3 linked regions of the Homo sapiens genome follow. The protein of the gene in region 1 interacts with the protein of each later gene in a pairwise test. Each region holds a gene or a part of one and is shown on either strand. Other genes may lie near its edges.

What was found. The genes of interacting proteins can lie anywhere in the genome.
Region 2: the proteins of ZNF341 (region 1) and CCT7 interact in binary tests that used the Homo sapiens proteins (3 or more experiments, as listed by UniProt).
Region 3: the proteins of ZNF341 (region 1) and ZDHHC17 interact in a two-hybrid assay, tested with the Homo sapiens proteins (one large-scale study listed by BioGRID and IntAct).

The regions. Positions count from the first base shown.
Region 1 is NC_000020.11:33,787,496-33,790,995, reverse strand, and holds part of ZNF341 (zinc finger protein 341), read right to left. Parts: exon of another isoform or gene 3,219-3,500; intron 2,134-3,218; coding exon 2,022-2,133; intron 1,479-2,021; coding exon 1,408-1,478; intron 9-1,407; coding exon 1-8. UniProt on the Homo sapiens protein: Transcriptional activator of STAT3 involved in the regulation of immune homeostasis. Also able to activate STAT1 transcription.
Region 2 is NC_000002.12:73,237,308-73,240,807, forward strand, and holds part of CCT7 (T-complex protein 1 subunit eta), read left to right. Parts: intron 1-2,335; coding exon 2,336-2,489; intron 2,490-3,129; coding exon 3,130-3,236; intron 3,237-3,500. UniProt on the Homo sapiens protein: Component of the chaperonin-containing T-complex (TRiC), a molecular chaperone complex that assists the folding of actin, tubulin and other proteins upon ATP hydrolysis.
Region 3 is NC_000012.12:76,770,615-76,774,114, reverse strand, and holds part of ZDHHC17 (palmitoyltransferase ZDHHC17), read right to left. Parts: intron 1-3,500. UniProt on the Homo sapiens protein: Palmitoyltransferase that catalyzes the addition of palmitate onto various protein substrates and is involved in a variety of cellular processes.

The sequences.
Region 1 (3,500 bases):
CTTCATGCCTGGAGGGCAAGGGAAAGTCAGTGAGAAGCATCCAGACCTTCACCCCGCAACAGTGCCCTGCGCTGGGAATAAAATCCAGGCTCTTTCCCCACCAGCACCTGTGTGATCTGGCCCCAGCTCTCTCCACCCTCGTCGTCTGCCTTCTTCCAGCCACTCTCTGCGCCAGCCACACTCGCTCTCCTCAGAGATGCCACGCTGGCTCCTCCCTCTGCGCCTTTGTACTTGCCATTCTCCTCTGCCTGGAACAGCTGCTCACTCTCTGCACCTTGGCTCGCTTTGCCAGGTCATCTCAGGCTCAGGGAGGGGCCGTGACGCCTGAGGCCACCCACAGGAACATGGCAGCACTAAGACTCCAACCCAGCCCTGTGTGTCCAAGTCATTGACCTACTCTCCCAGTTTTCACACTTTCTTTAGTGACTGACTCCTTTCTGTAAACCTTCTCAAACAAGGGAGACTTTACCCCCCAGAGGACTCAGCAATGCCTAGAGACATTTTTGGTTGTCACAACTGTGGGGGGATGCCACTGACACCAGTAGATAGAAGCCAGGGATACTGCTAAAAATCCTACAGGGCACAGGACAGCCCCCAGGACAAAATTATCTACAGGATTACAGGCCAGGCGCCGGTGGCTCACACCTGTAATCCCAGCACCTTGGGAGGCCAAGGCGGGCAGATCACTTGAGGTCAGGAGTTCGACACCAGCCTAGCCAACATGGTGAAAACCCCATGTCTACTAAAAATACAAAAATTAGCTGGGTGTGGTGGCAGGCACCTGTAATCCCAACTACTTGGGAAGCTGAGGCAAGAGAATCGCTTGAACCTGGGAGGCAGAGGTTGCAATGAGCCAAGATCACACCACTGCACTCCACCTGGGTGACAGAGGGAGGCTCCGTCTCAAAAAAAAAAAAAAAAAATTATCTGGCCCAAATTGTCAATGGTGCCAGGGTTGAAGAACCTTGTTTTAGACCTCGGCTGGCATGTGGAAAGCCAGCCAGGCTGCTCTGAGGAGGCGCTGAGAAACTGAGGAGTGGCTTGGAGACCCCTGCCCTGCCCTATCAAAGAAGCTTCCTGGCCATGTCTTGGACCTGGCTGGAATCTGATTCCCTCCACACCTCGTCCACACCTCTATTACACTGGGCACTGCTCCAACTGAGTCATCTCTGCTCAGGTCAGCTTCCTCCTTGGACTGGGGGACTGTGTCTGATTCATCTCTGTTCACCCTTAAGTCCCTAACACAGGCCTGGCTCATAGCCCACATAAGTGAAAGTGCTGGCTGGAATGTGCCAGGCAGGGAAAACAAGCCTCACAGGATATGTCTGCTCTTTCTCTTCCTGGCGGGTCTATCCCAGTGAACTAGAGCTGAACCAGACCCTCTTAGCAGGCCCAAGAGCCACTTACCAGAGTGGGAGAGGATGTGGGCCTTCAGCTTGTCCGGCCGGTTGAACTCCTTACTGCAGCCTGTGTGCGTCCTAAAACCCAAAGCCACTGGTCAGGGGGAGCTCACCAAGCTTAGGATCCTCTTGCTGGCCCCTCCACTAGCCCTGGGCACAAGGGACAGCCTTGTCCACCCTAAGGGCTGGGCAAGGAGGTAGGGTGGGAAGTGAGGCAGGCAGGGCCCAGGACAGGATAAAAGGAGAGAGGCCTGGCCAGGCACAGTGGCTCACGCCTGTAATCTCAGCACTTTGGGAGGCCGAGGTGGATGGATCACTTGCGGTCAGGAGCTCGAGACCAGCCTAGGCAACATGGCGAAACTCCATCTCTACTAAATCTGTAATCTCAGCTACTTGGGAAGCCGAGGCAAGAGAATCGCTTGAACCCAGAAGGCAGAGGTTGCAGTGAGACAAGATCTTACCACTGCACTCCAGCCTGGATGACAGAGTGAGACTATGTCTCCAAAAAAAAAAAAAAGGAGAGGCCTGCCCTCAGGCCTGACATCTGTCCCACCCTCCCCAGCAGCACCCCTGGAGAATCTGTCCCGCTACCCACCCCCCTGCATGGCAGTCTCTACTCACGAGAAAGGGCATTTGTATTTCTTGAAGGGCTCGTGGATCAACATGTGTCTCTTCAGTTTGTCCTTGCGGTTGAACGCAGACTCGCACACTGAGCATTTGTAGGGCTTCTCACCTGCAGCAGACACAGACAGGGAGAGCCAGCACTCACCAGGAGTCGGCATCCAGGGCACAAGGGTCCCCGCTGGGCCCCTCAGGGGAGCAGCTCCTCTAGGGAGGTGGCCAGGGGAGAAAATAGCCTCTCTCATTCTTCAGTGGCTTTGTTTTGCCAGAGACAAGACAGGGCTATTTTGACAGGATGGTCAGGAGAGGCCTCTCTGATGAGGCCATGCATGAGGAGAGACCTCAGGTCATCAGGGAGATGGTCTGGGCAGCAGGGAAAGCAGGTACAAAGGCCCTGAGGCAGGAGTGCGTTTGGCGGTGCTGATGAACAACAGGGAGGCTGGTGTGGCCAGAGAACAAGGCAGAAGGTGAGGGCAGCGAGCCAGCCAGGTCCGCATGGGAGGACCTGGGAGGCAGAGCTAAGGACTTGGCTTTTATTTATTTATTTTTTTTGAGACAGAGCCTTGCTCTGTCACCCAGGCTGGAGTGCAGTGGCAAGATTTCAGGTGAGTCACTGCAACCTCTGCCTTCTGGGTTCAAGCAATCCTCCTACCTCAGCCTCCTGAGTAGATGGGATTACAGGTGTGTGCCACCACGCCCAGCTAATTTTTGTATTTTTAGTAGAGATGGGGGGTTTCACCATGTTGGCCAGGCTGGTCTCGAACTCCTGACCTCAAGTGATCCACCTGCCTTGGCCTCCCAAAGTGCTGGGATTACAGGCATGAGCCACCGCGCCCAGCCAGGACTTTGGCTTTTACTCTGAGCCAGAAGAGAAGCACCAGAAGGTCTGAACAGCAGAGGGATGGACTCTGATGTAAGCTTTTAACCAGCTCGAATGAGGGTGGAGGTGAGGATAACCAGGAAGTGGCCCAGGACAGCCATGTTGGGAAGGCACAGTCGGCAGCCCTTGCCACTGGACTGGCTGTGACTGTGAGAGGAGGAGAGGAGTCAAGGATGAGGCACGGCCTGAGAAGCAAGGTGGCCTCATGTCATTTCTGGCAATGCGGTCCACCCTGGGGGACGAGGAATCACACCTTATCTAACTGAATCCTTCCAAAAAACCAGGAGGCACTGACTCCCATCATCCCTGTTTCACAGATAAGAAAGAAGACTGAAGTTCAGAGAGGTGAAGGGACTGGCTCAGGGGCTACCCCTATGGTTGCGGGAGCTAAGATTCCAGCCCAGCAGCGTGATCCAGAGCCCATCTGAGCTACCCAGATCTTCCTGCTGTTAAACCCGTCCTGGGGCAGCTCTTGCCTGATGGGCTACCTGAGGAACCCACAGGAAATCAAGGGAGGTGCCTGCAAAGTTGCCGTGGGGTCACAGCCTGCCCTTTGGAAGGGGCTGTTTCTGGGCTGCTGTGACTTCCTGCCATTATTT
Region 2 (3,500 bases), on another chromosome or scaffold:
TACACTTTGCAGGTTGAGGTGAGAAAAAGTATACACAAGCATTGGGTAAGTTAACCTGTTGAGGTGAAAGAACCTGTTGAAGGTGATAGGAAGTGATTGAGACTCATGTTAGTTTTTGATTTAAAGTGTAAGACTCCATCCGTGGCAGGGGTGGACCAGAGAAGACTTGGGGCTGCCATAAGGAATGATTTAGCAAGACTGGGAGATGGTAGGGCCTTTCAGGACACACATCTTTCCCTTACAGAAGGTGCCAGGGACTGGGCCAGCTGAAGAGCCAGAAAGAATGCTGGGAGTATAGAGAAGCCATTTCTTGCCACCAGACCTGGGACACTCCAGCAAAAGGAAGGAATTTTCCCTTCAGTTGACGCCTGATCCCAAATGTAGGGGTTTACATGACAAGCATTCTTTTTAAAATAAAAAATAAAAGGAGTAATGTATGATTATTTGACAAGCATTTAAAAAAATTTAATGAGGGCCTGGCATGGTGCCTCATGCCTGTAATCCTAGCACTTCAGAAGGCTGAGGCAGGAGGGTTGTTAGAGGCCAGGAGTTGGAGACCAGCCTGGGCAACATTTTTTAAATACAAATTTAAAAAATTAGCCAGGTGTGGTACCTCATGCATTGCGGTCCAGCTACTCAGGAGGCTTGAGCTTATAGTAAGCTATGATCTCACCACTGCACTCCAGCATGGGTGGTGGAGCAAGACCCTGTCTCTTAGAAATATATATTAAAAAATGAATAATATATTAAATTACTCCCACTCTCTTATTCCGTAGAGTTTATTGGGTATTTTTCGTTTTCTTTTTGTAGAGACAGGGTCTTGCCATGTTCCCCAGGCTGGTCTTGAACTCCATGAGCTCAAGTGATCCTCTTTTTTCTACAGTGGTTTTTGTTTTTTATGTAAATCACAGTATGCCATTCCTCTGCTGAAAGCTTCCCAGGGCTTTCCTTTTTAGGAATGAAATCTGAACTCCTCACCATAGTGTGTCTACGAGTGTGTATGTGATCTGGTTCCTGCCTGCCTCTTCAGCTTTATTCCAGTCTTCCTCTTGCTTACTACCCTCCAGCTGCGCTGGCCAAAAGAGTTGAACTTTTTAAGGAATTGACCAGTTAATAAGGAATCAGCCTCATGAGTGGCAAGACTCTGTCTTTGGCAGGAATTCCTCACTCCTCATTGTTAGGTTGGGAAAGCTCTGTGCTTTCCTGTGCCTTCCTTGCTCAGACATCCACGTACCTCTAAGGACTAGGTGATGGCTTTCAAACTTTTTATTGCATTCCACAGTAAGAAATACATTTTTAATCATAGCCTAGTAACAAATTTAACACAATAAAAGTTTTGAAATAGTATTTATCCTTACTACATTCTGTGTCACACACAAAATTAGCCAGAAACACTTGAGAAGACTGGATCTAGTTCGTGGGCTTATCTCTGAAGGCTCAGATTTGAATGTGGAGAGAAAGTAGTCTGGTTTGCTAAGCTGAGAAATTGCTCTCTCTGCTAATAATGGTGGTCACTAGAGCAAAGATATCTGAGCGGGCCCTTTAAAACAAGCAAGTATCCCTGTTTCTCAGTTTCTAAAGCAGGTCTGCAAATGAAGCCCTTACGGGGATAGGGAATGTTCTGGAGACCAATGCAATATAGAAAGAGGAAAACTTCTTTGGGGTATCTGATTGGAAATTAGTCACACAGAAGCTTTATTCAGCCAGCATGAGAGATGGAAACATTGCTGTATGAATTAGATTTGCCATCATTTTTCAAAACAGGGCAAAGGTGCTGTTTGTTTCTCTGCCTGTTTTCCTACACTGCAGCTGAACATCACTGTTACATAAAGCTGACTGCCTAGGCATCTCTAGGACAACACCTCAAGCTCTTGGCATCTTGCATTTTGCATCAGTGTCCCATCTGCTTCTCTAAGATTGAGCTGTAACACAGACAAGTGGATGTTTTGCTGCGGAATGAACACTTAGCAGGGTCTGCCTCTTCCTCCTGTGTTGTGACCCAATTCCTCAGCACAGGGAGTAAGGTCAGAAGTTGAAAAGGCCATGGTCATTCAGCTGGGTACTGGAGAACTCATGATTTTTTCTTTTAGATTAGGTCAGTGCTTCTCAAACCATTTTCCTGTCTAGCATACCTGCAGGGTAGGCTAAATTTGATAGTGTCTCTGGAGGTAGAGGCTGGTTGGGGAATGGATGTGGTAGACAGTTGGGGGAATGTGGTTTAAGAAGACCTCTAGATAATTCTGTTAAGGGAGAGATGGGAGCATTTTCCCCTTTCCCCTGCCAGTCTCATTATAATAGATGATTATTAAAAGCAGTTAATTTCTTTCTTTTCTAGCCCACACCAGTTATCCTATTGAAAGAGGGGACTGATAGCTCCCAAGGCATCCCCCAGCTTGTGAGTAACATCAGTGCCTGCCAGGTGATTGCTGAGGCTGTAAGAACTACCCTGGGTCCCCGTGGCATGGACAAGCTTATTGTAGATGGCAGAGGTAAGTCTACAGAGTTCCTCAGGCCTGTGTGCAGGAAAGGAGGCTCCTGAGGGGGTGTTTGGGACTAGCATAGGTTGGTATCAGAAATCCCACTGCTTTTAAGATCGTTGAAAGATGACTCACTCTGAAGCAGTTCCAATTCTTATATTGTCCTGACTGCTGAGCCCGTGTGGGACTATATGAGAGAACCTAGGCTCAGGAGCCTGTTGCCTCATAGGGAGACGTGGCCTAGAAACATGAAATAGAACCATCTGGAGTTTCCTGTGTTCACTTCCATTGTTATCAAGATGAGAAAATTCCTGTTTATATCTTGGTATATTAATTGATGTGTGAGGGTATCAACTGTGGTAAGAATATCTAAGTGGTTACTTTTATTTAAAAAATCTTTTCTGTATCCAGTTGACCTGTATTAATTGCTCTTCAAGGAAAATTGGGAGTCTGTGGTCTGCAAAAGCTTGTGATTTTAGACCCTTTGTGTACAGAGCTAATTCTGTATAGAAAGATCAGATAGGTATCCTTTCCCTTCAGCCCTGCCGTGATCCCCTCTGCCCCATCCCAGTAAAGTGTAGATGGGTTCTAGGTCCCACTTGAAGACAGCATTTAAGAAAGGGGCTTTAGATTTTTGTTTGTTTCTTTTAAGGCAAAGCAACAATTTCTAATGATGGGGCCACAATTCTGAAACTTCTTGATGTTGTCCATCCTGCAGCAAAGACTTTGGTAGACATTGCCAAATCCCAAGATGCTGAGGTAGGAAAATAGTTGTGTGTTTAAATGGAGGTTGAAACACATGCTTGCTTGCTCCTTAGTTCTCCTCTATTAAATTTTTTTAAGATTTTATATAATTATAATTGTACAAGTAATACATGCTTATAAAAGTATTTAGAATTAACAGCCTTTTAAAATTCATACTATTTCGTTACATGTAGCTTTTCATATCCATTAATACATTGGTGAATGACAACAGTCTTTAGATATAAGTCTACTGCCTGAGATCTTAACAGGTTGTGTGCT
Region 3 (3,500 bases), on another chromosome or scaffold:
CCACACCCAGCTAATTCTTTTATTTTTTTGTAGAGACAGGGATCCCACTGCTTCCCAGGCTGGTCTGGAATTGCTAGGCTCAAGCGATCCTCCCACCTCAGCCTCCCAAAGTGCTGGGATTTACAGGCACAAGCCACCGCACTCAGCCAGAAGTATATTTTACCTTATTAATGTATACTAAGCAAAAGAATAGACTGAATAAAAGAAAATTTCAAAGAGAAGGACTTTTATGGAAATGTAGTTTTATTATTTCAAGTAAAAAGGTTACTAAAAGAAGTGGCCTTAGAGCAACTGCTAAAAATGAATCCTCCCCTAGTTCCTTTAGTAACAAGGAAGAACTGATAGTTAACTCTAATAAAGTTTTTCTACTATATTGTAAAAAATAAGTAAAAAATAAATTGTATTTTGACCTATTCATGTATACAGCAAAGTACATATAAGGATTATGGGCTTGGGAGTCAGAGTTTAGGTTCTAATATAAACTATGCCAACTTTCTAATGATGTGAACCTGAGTAAACTACTTCACCTCTCTTGAATCTGTTTCCTAATCTGTAAACAGCTCAACATATACACTTTGCAGAACTACTGTGAAAAGTAAATGAACAAAACTTGGAAGCAATAAGACGTCCTTCAGTGGGTGAATGGATTTGATACACCCAGAAAATAAAATATTATTCAGCACTAAAAAGAAACGAGCTATGAAGCCATGAAAAGACATGGAGGAACTTTAAATGAATATTACTAAGTCAAAGAAGCCAATCCAAAAGGCAACATACTGCATGATTCCAACTATAAGATACTCTGGAAAAAACAAAACTAAAGAGACAGTAAAAAAAATCAGGGATTGGTGGGAAGGACATATGAACAGGCAGAACAAAGATTTTTAAGGCCATGGAACTATTCTACATGACAACATAATGGCGGACACACATTACTCTTACAAGTGTTAAGAACCTCGCCGGGTGCAGTGGCTGACACCTGTAAGCCCAGTACTTTGAGACGTCGAGGCAGACAGATCACCTGAGGTCAGGAGTTCAAGACCAGCCTGGCCAACATGGTGAAATCCCGTCTCTACTAAAAATACAAAAAATGAGCAGGGCGTGGTGGCACGTGCTTGTAGAGGTACTCGGGAGGGAGGCTGAGGCAGGAGAATTGCTTGAACCCAGGAGGCGAAGTTGCAGTGAGCCAAGAATCACGCCATTGCACTCCAGCCTGGGCAACAAGAGCAAAACTCCATCCCTCTCCCAAAGAAACAAAAACAAGCGTTAAGGCCGGGCGCGGTGGCTCACGCCTGTAATCCCAGCACTTTGGGAGGCCGAGGCGGGTGGATCACGAGGTCAGGAGATTGAGACCATCCTGGGTAACATAGTGAAACCCTGTCTCTACTAAAAAAAAAAAAAAAAATACAAAAGTTAGCTGGGCATGGTGGCACGTGCTTGTAATCCCAGCTACTCAGGAGGCTGAGGCAGAAGAACTGCTTGAACCTGGGAGGCAGAGGTTGTAGTGAGCTGAGATTGTATCACTGCACTCCAGCCTGGCGACAAAGCTAGACTCCGTCTCAAAAAAAAAAAAAAAAAACAAGTGTTAAGAACCATAGAATACACAACACGAAGAGTGAGCCCTAATGTAAACTATGGCCTTTGGGTGATAATGATGCATCAATGTAGGTTCATCTACCATAACAAGTGTACCACGCTAGTGTAGAATGTCCATACTGAGGGAGGTTATGCATGTGTACAGGCAGGGAGCATATGGGAACTCTTCGTACTTTCTGCTCAATTTTGCTACCAATATAAAACTGCTCTTAAAAAATTAAGTCTGTTCAAAAAATTCAAAAACAAAACACAAATGAGACCATTTGTAACCACAGCTAGCTAGTGCCTAGCAAATCCAACTCTATCATCTCTATCATACTGTATTGTGCTATAAAAACAGGCAACCTGGATTACTACTTAACCTCTCTATACCTCTGTTTCCTCATTTGTAAAATAGGTATAAAAAGCTGTGAGGATTAAATGAATGAATATACATGCAAAATTGTTTAGGATAGTGCCTAGCTCATACTTATAATTTGCTGGCATCTATGTCCCGGCTACATGGAAGAAAGAAGCTGGTCTGCATTTGGAGAAAATGAAGCTGAAAGGGAGAGAGGAGGAGAGATAAGAGAGTTTTGGTGGCATTCTCAGCTCAGGTTCCAGTTGTGTTTGATTTCAACTGCATCCTTGCATCCTGAGTTTAGGTTATCTGAGACAGTAAATTCCCCTTTTTGCCCAACTATGTTTCAGACAAGATTGTTGACATCTGCAACAAGAGGATCCTTACACAACAAGAAACTTCTGTCTTCAACTCAAAGAACTTTTTTTTTTTTCATGAGAATAGGGATAGTTTTGGTAACCACCAGTTTTGTTCATACCTCATTAAATCCTTCAAAAATTAATGAGTATTCATAATTGAAAAATTATTCTTAAAAACTAAACAAGGGTAGGGTATACTAACATCTCAATCAGAAGTAATTTTTCACTTCATTTTTTTCTAGAATACAACAACTGATAAAAATGCAAGCCATCTGACATATATACACAAAAAATGTCTCAGGTACTGTTAATGTTATAATCTTCATATCCCTAACAGTATCACCGATAATCAGAAAGATGATCCTAGGACACTATAATGTTCTAATTTATCAAAGAAAGATTCTATTATGTTTAGTATGTATTAACCCTAGAAAATAATTTGGCAAATTTGCAACAGGAATTGAAACAAAAACAAAAAAGTATTGTTTAATTCTCTGTAACTCAGGATACTAAGTTCACAGTATCTCATTCACAGAAGGCTGAAGTTTCACTGTACTTTCAAATTAGCTGCCTGTGGCTCCACTTTAAGAAAATTTTAAAAGAAGATATTTTATCCTAGGTCTAAATAATTATTCCACTGGGTCAAATTTTATGTATTTTATAAATATAATATTGTCTTGAATCATTATTTTTCAAATTCCAAAATTAAAATATTTGATTTTACTCTTAAATTATCCATCTGTAATAAAATCTATTCATAAAATAATACTATAATCAGATAATGCGCTGAAAGAGAATTTTACATAACCTTAATAGTGAAACATCTTTTCGGATTATGTAATTGTTGTGGGTTCTGTTAAAAGCAAACTGCATTTTTTTTTTTTTTTTTTTTTGAGATGGAGTTTTGCTCATTGCCCAGGCAGGATGGCACGATCTTAGCTCACAACCTCTGCCTCCCAGGTTCAAGCGATTCTCCTGCCTCAGCCTCCCGAGTAGCTGGGATTACAGGCATGCACCCCCATGCCCGGCTAATTTTTTATTTTTAGTAGAGACGGGGTTTCTCCATGTTGGTCAGGCTGGTCTCGAACTCCCGACCTCAGGAGATCTGCCAGCCTCAGCCTCCCAAAGTGCCGCAATTACAGGCGTAAGCCACCAAGCCCGGCCAGCACACTGCATTTTAAGACACCTTAACTGTTCAATGCTGA